Linked DNA regions of Homo sapiens: region 2 is linked to region 1. The links come from fine-mapping of genetic effects on gene expression. Tissue or cell type: amygdala. Region 1 holds a variant in brackets; the other region holds the start of a gene. All regions are shown on one strand. Distances are between the middles of the regions.

Evidence for each region. PIP is the estimated chance that this variant, and not a neighbour inherited with it, causes the effect. A credible set is the group of variants that fine-mapping cannot tell apart.
Region 2: LANCL1-AS1 starts here. The variant in region 1 is the best candidate, but not a certain one, in a credible set for the expression of LANCL1-AS1 in amygdala (GTEx, PIP 0.59).

The regions. Positions count from the first base shown.
Region 1 is chr2:209,922,382-209,927,933 of GRCh38, forward strand. UNC80 (unc-80 subunit of NALCN channel complex) reads left to right here. Exons shown (of 65, transcript NM_001371986.1): 35 at 1-2; 36 at 4,462-4,605. Among named protein-coding and RNA genes, the nearest start is that of RPE, 77 kb to the right of the region's middle. The variant C/T (reference allele first, on the strand shown) is at 3,110.
Region 2 is chr2:210,322,592-210,327,591 of GRCh38, forward strand. It overlaps LANCL1-AS1 (LANCL1 antisense RNA 1), which reads left to right and starts at 2,121. Exons shown (of 5, transcript NR_110606.1): 1 at 2,121-2,243.

The DNA of each region.
Region 1 (5,552 bases):
AGGTGTGTCCTCTTGCATACGTTTTATTTCTCCTGACTTATGTGTTTTGAAACACTTTCCAGTTAATATCATGATCTCACTTGATTACATTGTCTTCATTAAATAACTTGTCTCATGACTTGACATTCTAAAAAAAATTAGCATGGCATCCTTTAAAAAAAAATTGTTGATTTACCTCAGCAATTGTTATTTTTAAGTTGGCTCTATTTTAATTACATTGCATGTAATCATATTGCTGAGGGTTCAGAATACATCATTCTAGACAGTTAATAGTTCTCCACCTAGCTACAGTACATTACAACCAACTGGGAAGCTTAAAAAGAAAGTTCCTAAGACCAAATCAAAATCTCTGAGGGTAGGACTCATCAGTGTTTTTAAAACCTCCTCAGCTGATTTCAGTGTGTGTCACTAGTTTTTGTTTTTGTTTTTGTTTTTGTTTTTGTTTTTATTCATCCCTGTGGGTATAAAGTGGTAACTCAATGTGATTTTTATTTGCACTTCCCTAATGACAAATGGTATGGAGCATCTTTTCATATGCTTATTGACCATATGTATATCTTCTTTGTAAAAGTATTCATTCAAATCTTTTGCCCACTTTAAATTGGGCAATTTGTCTTTTAACTGTTAAATTATAAGAACTATTTATACATTCTGGATATAAGTCACTTATCAGATATATGATTTGCAAATATTTTCTCCCATTTCGTAGTTTGTCTTTTTACTTTCTTCACTTGATCTTAGCCAAAAGGCTGAGAAGCGAGTGTCTTTTTTATTTTCTTAAAGGTAACTTTGAGGCACAAAATTTTTTATTTTAATTAGGTCCAATGTGTGTGTTTTTCTTTTGTCATTTGTGCTTTTAGTGTCATATCTAAGAAACAATTGTCTAATCCAAGGTCGCAATTTGTCTAATCCAAGGTCACAATTTGTCTAATCCAAGGTCACAAAGATTTACTCCTATGTTTTCTTCTAAGAGTTTTAGCATTTATATTTAGGTGTGTAATCAACTTTGAGTTAATATGTGTTATGTTATGAGTTAGAATTTTGCATTTAGATAACTAGTTGTCCCAGCACTATTCATAGAAAAGACCATTTTCTCCATTGAATTTTCTTGGCACCTTTGTCAAAAAGCAATTGAACATAAATGTAGTAGTATATTTATGGTTTTTCAGTTCTGTTCTACTGATCTGTATGTCAATCCTTCTCTCAGTACCATGAAATCTTGATATGCAGATATTTGTATAATTGTTGTGTCTTTCTCATTGATTATTTTGTCATTATAACATGCTCTGTTTTGCCTGTGGTAAAAATTTTTCACTTACAGTATACTTTGTCTGATGTTAACATAGATACTCCACATCATTTTTTATTGCTATCTGTATGGCATATCTTCTTTCATCCTTTTCTTTCATCTTATTTGTGTCCTTGAAACTAAATTACGTCTCTTAAACATAACAGTTGATTCATATTTGTTTGTTTTTATCCATTCTGCTAATTTTGCCTTTTGATTAGTCAGTTTACATTTATTGCAGTTTTGGATAAGGTAAGATATGTGCCTGCCGTTTTAAAATATAAGATATGCCATGTGAAAGACACAGTTTTATTTATATCTTTATCTTATAATAACTTTATAAGATAATATGTTTTATATAACATAACATTATATTAAAATAAAACATTTATAATAGCTGACAAAATCTTTGTCTAGTAAGTCCAACATTTAAGCTTCCTCAGGGTTAGTTTATGTTGACTGCTTTTATTTCTGTATATGGGCAATATTTTCCGGGTTTCTTATATGTCTCATAAGTTTTTATTGAAAAATGGACAATTTAAATTATATAATGTGGAAACTCTGCAAATCAAATGTCCCCCTTTCCTCATCAGGATTTTTTATTATTGTGTTGCTATTTGTTTGTTTAGTAACTTTCCTTGACTAATTTGTAAAGTCCATAATAAGCCTTTGTTGAGTGTGAGCACTGAAATCCCTGCTCAGTTACATTAGTGGTCAGGTAATGATTAGACAGAGATTTTCTTAAGTGCCTTGAACTAATAAGTCTTCCAGCCTTTACTGAGGACCACTTTGGGTGTGTTGAGGCACATCTTCAGTGTTCCAGTAGTTTAAAACTCTGCCCTTCATTTTTGTACTTTCTGCTTGTGTAGAGCTTCAAGGTTAGCCAAACATGAGAGATGACGAATTTCTCAGGTCTTTCCTGGGCATGTGCACAACCTTGTACATATGTACAGCCATCTAGATAACCAGGAATATGTCAGTGATTTGCAAGCCCCCTAGAAATCTCATTCTCCAGATTTGCCTTTTAAGATTTTTGTCAGCCTCCAGCTTCTCCCAACTCATATGAGCACCTCAGACAGCTACAATGTTAAATAATTGTTGCTGATTTTTTTTTTTTTTTGGAAAATGCCCTGGGGATAAAGCTGTTTGCACTAAGCTTTAAGTCAAGCTAAATAAAGACAAACCTTGTGAACAGGGATTTTCCATGGGGTTCTAGATAGGTCAAGTAGTGACAATTCTCTGGTGTTGAGGCTTTTAGGGGGCTCCAAAACTGCTCTGCCCATCCAGTGGCTGCTAGGCTGCTGGTTTTAACAGCTACCATGGTTGCAAGGTTGTCAATTTTCAAGGCTCCTAAGGACCTAGGAAGACAGGGAGGTGAGTAGGACAAGTTAAAAAGCCAGAAATACCACTGGTCTTTTTTCCTTTTTTTTTTTGTTGTTTTTTTAATACATGCTCCTCAAATAGTTCCAAGCTTTTGGTAAATTTTGAAAGCTCCGAAAAAAGTGTATTTCACAGTATTCTCATTGCTTTTACGGAAGAACAGATTTCAGGGATCTATACTCCACTGTTGCAGAAGTGCTTGGTCCACTATATATATATACATTTTTAAAGATTTCCACATGCATCTACTACGAAGCTGTGTCCAGAATTTATTCCTTCCAGCGGGTTCTTGGTCTCGCTGACTTCAAGAATGAAGCCGCGGACCTTCACAGTGAGTGTTACAGCTCATAAAGGTAATGCGGACCCAAAGAGTGAGCAGCAGCAAGATTTATTGTGAAGAGCAAAAGAACAAAGCTTCTGCAATGTGGAAGGGGACCCAAG[C/T]GGGTTGCCGCTACTGGCTTGGGTGGCCAGCTTTTATTCCCTTATTTTATTTTATTCCAGCTTTTATTCCCTTATTTGGCCCCTCCCACATCCATTGGTCCCTTTTACAGAGCGCTGATTGGTCCATTTTACAGAGTGCTGATTGGTGCGTTTACAATCCTTTAGCTAGACACAGAGCACTGACTGGTGCGATTTTACAGAGTGCTGGTTGGTGCATTTACAATCCTTTAGCTAGACACAGAGCCCTGATTGGTGCATTTACAATCCTTTAGCTAGACACAAAAGTTCTCCAAGTCCACATCCAACCCAGAAGATCAGCTGGCTTCACCTCTCAAAGCCCAGACTGAGAATGACAGTATAAGTCTCTTAACCCTCTAGTCCTTCATAGGCCTTCTAAAATCCCAAATAGTCATGTAAGTTTTAATCTGAGAATCAAACACTCACAATTCTTTAGTGCTTTAGAAAAGTGACATGTATATTTTCATATTAATAAGCTGTTAAATACCTTTTCTACCTTCCTTGCCTACTAAATCTAACCTTTTTCCTTTATTCCTATATGCAATTATATTTATTTTTAATTTGTTATTGTATTTATCAATGAGGATGAAAACATTAATATGGGTGGGCTATGTCATTCTTATCCTAAATGCATGTGTGTTTTCTTCTACCCCATATTACTGCTTACTATCTCTCACACACTCACATGCACACAACCAGTTGCATCTATGAAAAATGTCTTAGTCTCCGCTTAGAATTTTATCTTCATTAATTTAATATTGTGAACCGATCCACTTGTCCCAGAATGTCTGTGCTTCGCTTCTCTACCAAACAAGAATAATAGTACTCGGAAAGTGGGCTGGTTTTTTTTATTTGTTATAAAATGAAGAGGCACTTTGTGTAACGTAATCTTTTTTAAGATGTTGGCATTTTCTCATTGCTAGGATTATGCTTTTAAATAAGTATGCCTTGAACTGAGAAATGTTGCATTAAAATTATATTACTGAGGCCAGATGCAGTGGCTTATGCCTGTAATTTCAGCACTTTGGGAGGTGGAGGTGGGAGGATTGCTTGAGCCCGGTAGTTCAAGACCGACTGGGGCAACACAGTGAGGACTCATCCTACAAAAAATAAAAAAATTAGTCAGATGTGGTGGCACACCTATGTGGTCCCAGCTACTCTGGAGGCTGAGACAGGAGGATCTCTTGAGCCCAAGAAGTCGAGGCTGCAGTGAGCAGTGATCATGCCACTGTACTCCAGCCTGGGTGACAGAGTGAGACCCTATCTCAAAACAACAGTAGCAACAAAGAATTACGTTACTGAGAAAAGCACCCTGATTTTGTCTCCCATTTTAGATGAGGAACATACCACTGAACACACGCCGAACCACCATGTGCCTCAGCCCCCACAAGCAGTGTTCCCAGCATGCATCTGTGCAGCAGTACTTCCCATTGTTCATCTGATGGAGGATGGTGAGGTGCGGGAAGATGGAGTAGCAGGTACAGTTTTGAACAGTCAGATCATCAGTGACATTCTTAAGCTGTTTATCTGATAGAAGACAGTAGGTTGCTCTTAAACACATTATCTACTGGCCACATGTTGAACTGTTTTATGCACATATTATAATTACAGATTTGTAACATACTGCGCTAACAGTATCACTCTCTCCACCTCCTTCTCCCTCTACCTTTATGGCCAAAAAAATTGCATTTAAAATAGGTAATTGGGTCCAGGAGCATTGTTCGTGACCAGAGAACAGAACAACACAATAATTATTTAGCCACATAGAAATCAAACCTTAGAAATCTTAGCTATTAGCTTGACACCACTAATACCATCTCTCTTACGTGATTACCTTTCCTGACGTGCTAACTACCTAAAAAGAATAATTGCAAAATGAAACGATAAACTAAGGGAAAAGATGAGTAACATTTGTGACAGACAAAGGTTAATTTCTTAACGTTACATTTTAAAAAGCTCTTATAACTCACTAATAATTTTTTAAAACCCCATTAGAAAACTGGGCAAAGGATATCAGCAGGCAATCCAATGGCCAGTAACACCTGGAGACAACATCGTTGTTTAAAACTGTAATAAATCTTACATTTCAGCCAGAAAGTCGGCAAATATTACTTTAAATGAAAATATCTATTGCTGGTGAAAAAGCAGGGGAAAGAGCATCCTCATACTTTGCTGATGAAGTATAAAACTCTGTACAAGCATTCTAGAACAGAGTTTCATGATATGTATCAAAAACCTTAAAAGTGTGAAAAGCTTTTGACACAGATTTGGCTTCTAGCAATTTCCTAAGACAATCATGAGGGCTGTATAAAGGACATTGTACACTGATCATTATTTAAAATAAAAAATATTTAGAAAGACTTTAAATCCCTAACAATAAGCAATTAGTTAATCATAGTACCTCCATATGATAACATTCTGTGAA
Region 2 (5,000 bases), 400 kb after region 1:
GAGGATGAACAAAATTGACTATTAGAACCCATTCTGAAAAGTTAATGGCTTTGGCAGTACTTAGTTGAAGGAAGAAAAAGGTGGCTTAAAAGCAATTTTAATTAATAAAATGTTGCTATTAAGAGAATAGTCGTCAGCTGTTCTTTATATGAAACTAACAGGGATGAGTGAAATAATTTTCGGTTAAAAATAAATAACTTTCTAACTGGGGATTATGAGGTACTCCAAAAATATTTTAAAATGTAAACTGTTTCCTTTTAAGAATAAATGGGTGTTTAAGTGCAAACTTGATAAAGGACTGGGACTGGATAATAAAGATGATTTTTTAAAATGTTTACACTCCTTTCGTCACTAAGTTTTTAACTAGTATTGTTTCTTTAACAGTTAATAAATCCAATACTTGTGTAAGTGAAGACTGGTATTTTTCTTCTTTTGCTCTCAGAGTTACCTTGTTAGAGGTCATGATATATCCAGGGCCAAGCTGGAACCAGTGCTCCGGAATCTTGTTTTATGAAGCAGATAGTAAGTCATGTAGAAATTGAGTCAGCGTGATTCTTTACATGGTTAACATGCTGCTTCCCCTGGAGGTGGGGGTGTAGGATTTCTCAAGGAAGGACATTTATAGTGATTAAAATTGCTCAGAGATTGCTTCACTGGGTAATTCTGATGCTGTAGTATGTGATTCTGGCAAGAGAGAGGGAGTATGAAAGGGACAGAAAATCCCAGACCATGGCAAGAAAGGGCACACGATGCAGAGACTACCTCAAGAAAAGGGGCTGTGGCAGTAAGAAAACAGTAACCGAATGGTCAGACTATTGATCAGAAATCCTTCTTGGTTGCCTCCTGAGAAGGAATTGAGAGCATAAATGTCCAAGGGCAATGACTGCCCATTAACTCACCATCATCCTACAATATTTAGCATAGTTCCAAGAACAAACTGGCAAAAGAGATTTTGGCAGCTGATATTTTTCTGGGAAATTAAGTGGAAAGCACCCTCCAGGACAAAAAGGCCAAGAATAAATACTAAACATGTGCATATCTTAAAAGCCAACAATTTCACTCATAGTCATGTGTCCCCCACAAATGTGTATGTATATGCATAAAGATGTACATAGGTTGGGCACGGTGGCTCACGCCTGTAATCCCAGCACTTTGGGAGGCTGAGGTGGGTGGATCACCTGAGGTCAGGAGTTCGAGGTCAGCCTGACCAACATGGCAAAACCCTGTCTCTATTAAAAATACAAAAATTTAGCGAGGTGTGGTGGTGGGCACCTATAATCCCAGCTACTTGGGAGGCTGAGGCAGGAGAATTGCTTGAACCCGGGAGGCAGAAGTCACAGTGAGCTGAGATCACACCATTGCACTCCAGCCTGGGCAACAAGAGCAAGACTCTGTCTCAAAAAAAATGTACATAAACATTTTTAGCAATGATATTCATAATTGCACAAAACTGGAAACAACCCAAATGCCCATTAGCAATAAAATGGATAGAATATCATATATCCTTGTGATGGAACACTACACAGCAATAAGAATGAACAAACTACAGGTACATGTAATAAGATAGATCAGTGTCACACAGTGTTATGGTTCCATTTATATAAAGTTCAAGACCAAGAGAAACTACCTGATGGTATTCGAAGACAGGATAGTAGTAGAGAGGAGTGTTGGGTAGTGGAGAGGAAGGTCAGGTAGTGAAGGAGCTGGTGTTTACATGAATTTGTTGAAGGAGCTGGTGGTTACATGAATTTGTTCACTTTGTGATAATTCATCAAGTTGTACACTTAAGATTTCTGCATTTTTCCAAATGTATGTTATGCTTTAATACAAAGTTTGATAGGGAGAAGAAATAATACTGCCTTCCAAAGTAAAATGAATGACATTGGGTGGGATAAAAAAAACAGAGGGACCCTGTGTCAAGCCTGTCTTAGGGTCTTCAGACAGCATGAGTCTCGCTGTCTCCATTTTGAAGATGGGCAACAACTGCAGGGATAAGAATAGCCCATGGCTGACAGTGCATTTGCTTCTACTTGTCCTGGTCAAGGTTTTCTAATTCGGGCCCAAGAGAGTATTCATGTCTCCAGGAGGCCACCCTATGGCACGTTAGGCATTCTTGAGAGACTGGCGGCCTCAGTCCTTGTGTTTGGAGCAGTTCTGCTAGAGGAGGAAACAGCACAAAGGGCACTCTTATGCTGCTGTAAACCAGTGCCAGGATTTTTAAAATGTGAGACACCTGTTACCCTGTAAGTATTAATTTCAACTTGAGGTCTCTAGCTTTTTAATTTGCTGGATACATTCTTTTATATGAAATGTGATGGGCATTTCTGACGTGGAAGAAATTGGGACCAGTAAAGCCGGGAAGAAAGCAAAATGGGGTAGCAGGGGCCCTTTTCTCAGCTTCTAATGAAATATTTGTAGTCAAGACCAAGCACACATATTGATTCTCATCAAGTGTGAAATCGTTGGCGGCCCTGGAGGTGAGCCCCACGGGACCATTTGTACCGCACTCTTTCAAATGAACAGATTAAATCTCTCGTAAGATGCTGTTTTTGACACACTCGTACTGCATATATTAAAATCCTCCCTGGTGCCCTTTTGGCGGTTAGGATTCAGGTAGTTCCAGTGCATCACAGCCTGTGTACCAGCTGGAAAGGATATTTTTTTTTTCTTCCCTGGAATGTGTAAAGGAAGAATTATATTGCTGTTTGTTGAAAGAGACTATATGTCTCGCAAGTCCCACTTCAATAATCTTCTAGAAGCAAGAATGAATTTGGGATTGGAAAGGGCATTACAACATGGCTAAATAAATAGCAAGGGGTCTCTCAACACCTGGTTAGCCTGCAATGTTACAATATGACTTCTAGGTCTTACATTTCAGTCTCTTTCTTCAGCAAACAGAGTCTGAAAGGTCTTACACAAAGACAGAATTTTAAGTCTGAACACTCAAGAAATGTGGTCTTCACACTCTAAAGCTGTCACTAATTCCTTGAGAAGCACCAGAAACTTTCTGACTAAACCTTTTTATGTCTTCAATAATGGTTAAATCCAATATACCTTAGGGTTTCCCTCAGATTTAGTCTTCATATTCTTTAGCTTTTGCTAAAGAATTTTAGCAAAATTTCTTATTTTGCATTTCTCTAGCTTCATGACTGGGCTGTCATCATAGGTATATAAGACCATGTACAGGGCTGTGCATTAATATTGCAAGTCTGGAAATTCCAGATATCTTGGCAAAGGGAGAAACAACTTGTGGTTGGAGCTTGGAGGATGAGGAACCAACAAGTTCTGAGTCCTCATGTCTTATGCTTAGGCTGATTCCATTTCTTCCCTCAAATTGTAAATATTTATTTAGGTGTAAAGGAGAGGGCCTATCTAAAGCAGACTGGTGTGTGAGTAGAGTTATTTTCATAGTGTGTCCTCTCCCAGTGATTTATGTTTCCTAGAATATTGATGAAAAATGGATGAGCTCCCGCAACATCTCCTGCCACTCTCCCCCTCACATATTGGACTACAGACATTCTGGCCTTCTTCAGTTCATTCTTTAGTATGATATGCTGTTCTTTCTTCCTGAATTGTTCTTCTAATCTTTCTTTGAATGAATGTTTTTATTCCCTTTCAAGTCTTACCTTAGAAGTAAGTCCTCTCTTCAGAAGGGTCTTACTTATCACCCTATCTAAAGTAGGTTCCACTCCTCTCATCCCATATTGCAATACTTCATTTGGTGGACTCATAGCTTATAATAATTGAATCATTTATTGATTATTGTCCTCACTTAGACTATAAATTCCATGAGACAGTGCTCATGGTTATATTGTTTACTGAATTGATTCTACCTAAGTGTCTATCAACAGAGAAATGGATGTTTGGATAGTGCTATTGTCCTATTGCCATTGTGACAAGGGCTCAGATAAACATGCAAGTGCACATATTCATGTACTGATTTCTTTTTCCTTTGGATAAATACTCAGAAGTAGGATTGCTGGATTGTATGGTAGTTCTATTTTTTGGTTTTTAAAGAAATCGTCATACTATTTTTCATAGTGGTTGTACTAATTTACCTTCCCATCAACAGTGTTTAAGAGTTTCCTTTTCTCTGCATTCTCACCAGAATCTGATATTTTTCATCTTTTTAATGACAGCCATTCTAACTGGAGTAAGATGATATCTCATTGTGGTTTCCATTTGCATTTCTCTGATGCATAGTGATGTTGGGTATTTTTTCATATACCATTTGTATATGGCCATTTGTGTGCCTTACTTTCAGAAATATCTGTTCATATCCTTTGCCCACTTTTTAATATGATTATTTGTGGGGTTTTTTTTGGTTGTTGAATTGTTTGAGTTCCTTGATATTCTGGATATTAATGCCTTGTTGGATGAATAGCTTACAAATATTTTCTCCCATTTTACAGGTTGTCTTTTCACTCTCTTGGTTGTTTCTTTTGATATGCAGAAGCTTTTTGGTTTAATATGCTACCATTTGTCTATTTTAGTTTTTGTTGCCTGTGATTTTGAGGTCTTAGGTGTAAGATCTTTGCCCGGACCAATGTACTGAAGAGTTTTCCCTCTGTTTTCTTCTAGTAGTTTTATAGTTTTAAGTGTTTAAGTCTATAATGTACCTTGAATTAATATGTGATGTAGTGAAGATAGGGGCTTAGATAGAAGATACCTATATTCTTCTGCATGTAGATATCCAAATTTCCCATCACCATTAATTGAAGATACTGTCATTTCCCCAATGGATGTTCTTGGCACATTTGTCAAAAATCAGTAGGCTGTAAATACATGGATTTATTTCTGGATTCTCTATTTTTTTTTTTCTTTCCTGAGAGAGAGTCTTGCTCTGTTGCCCAGGCTGGAGTACAGAGGCAAATCTCAGCTCACTGCAACCTTCGTCTCATAGGTTTAAGCGATTCTCCTGCCTCTCCCTCCTGAGTAGCTGGGATTACAGGTGCATACCACCATGCCTGGCTAATTTTTTGTATTTTTAGTAGAGACGG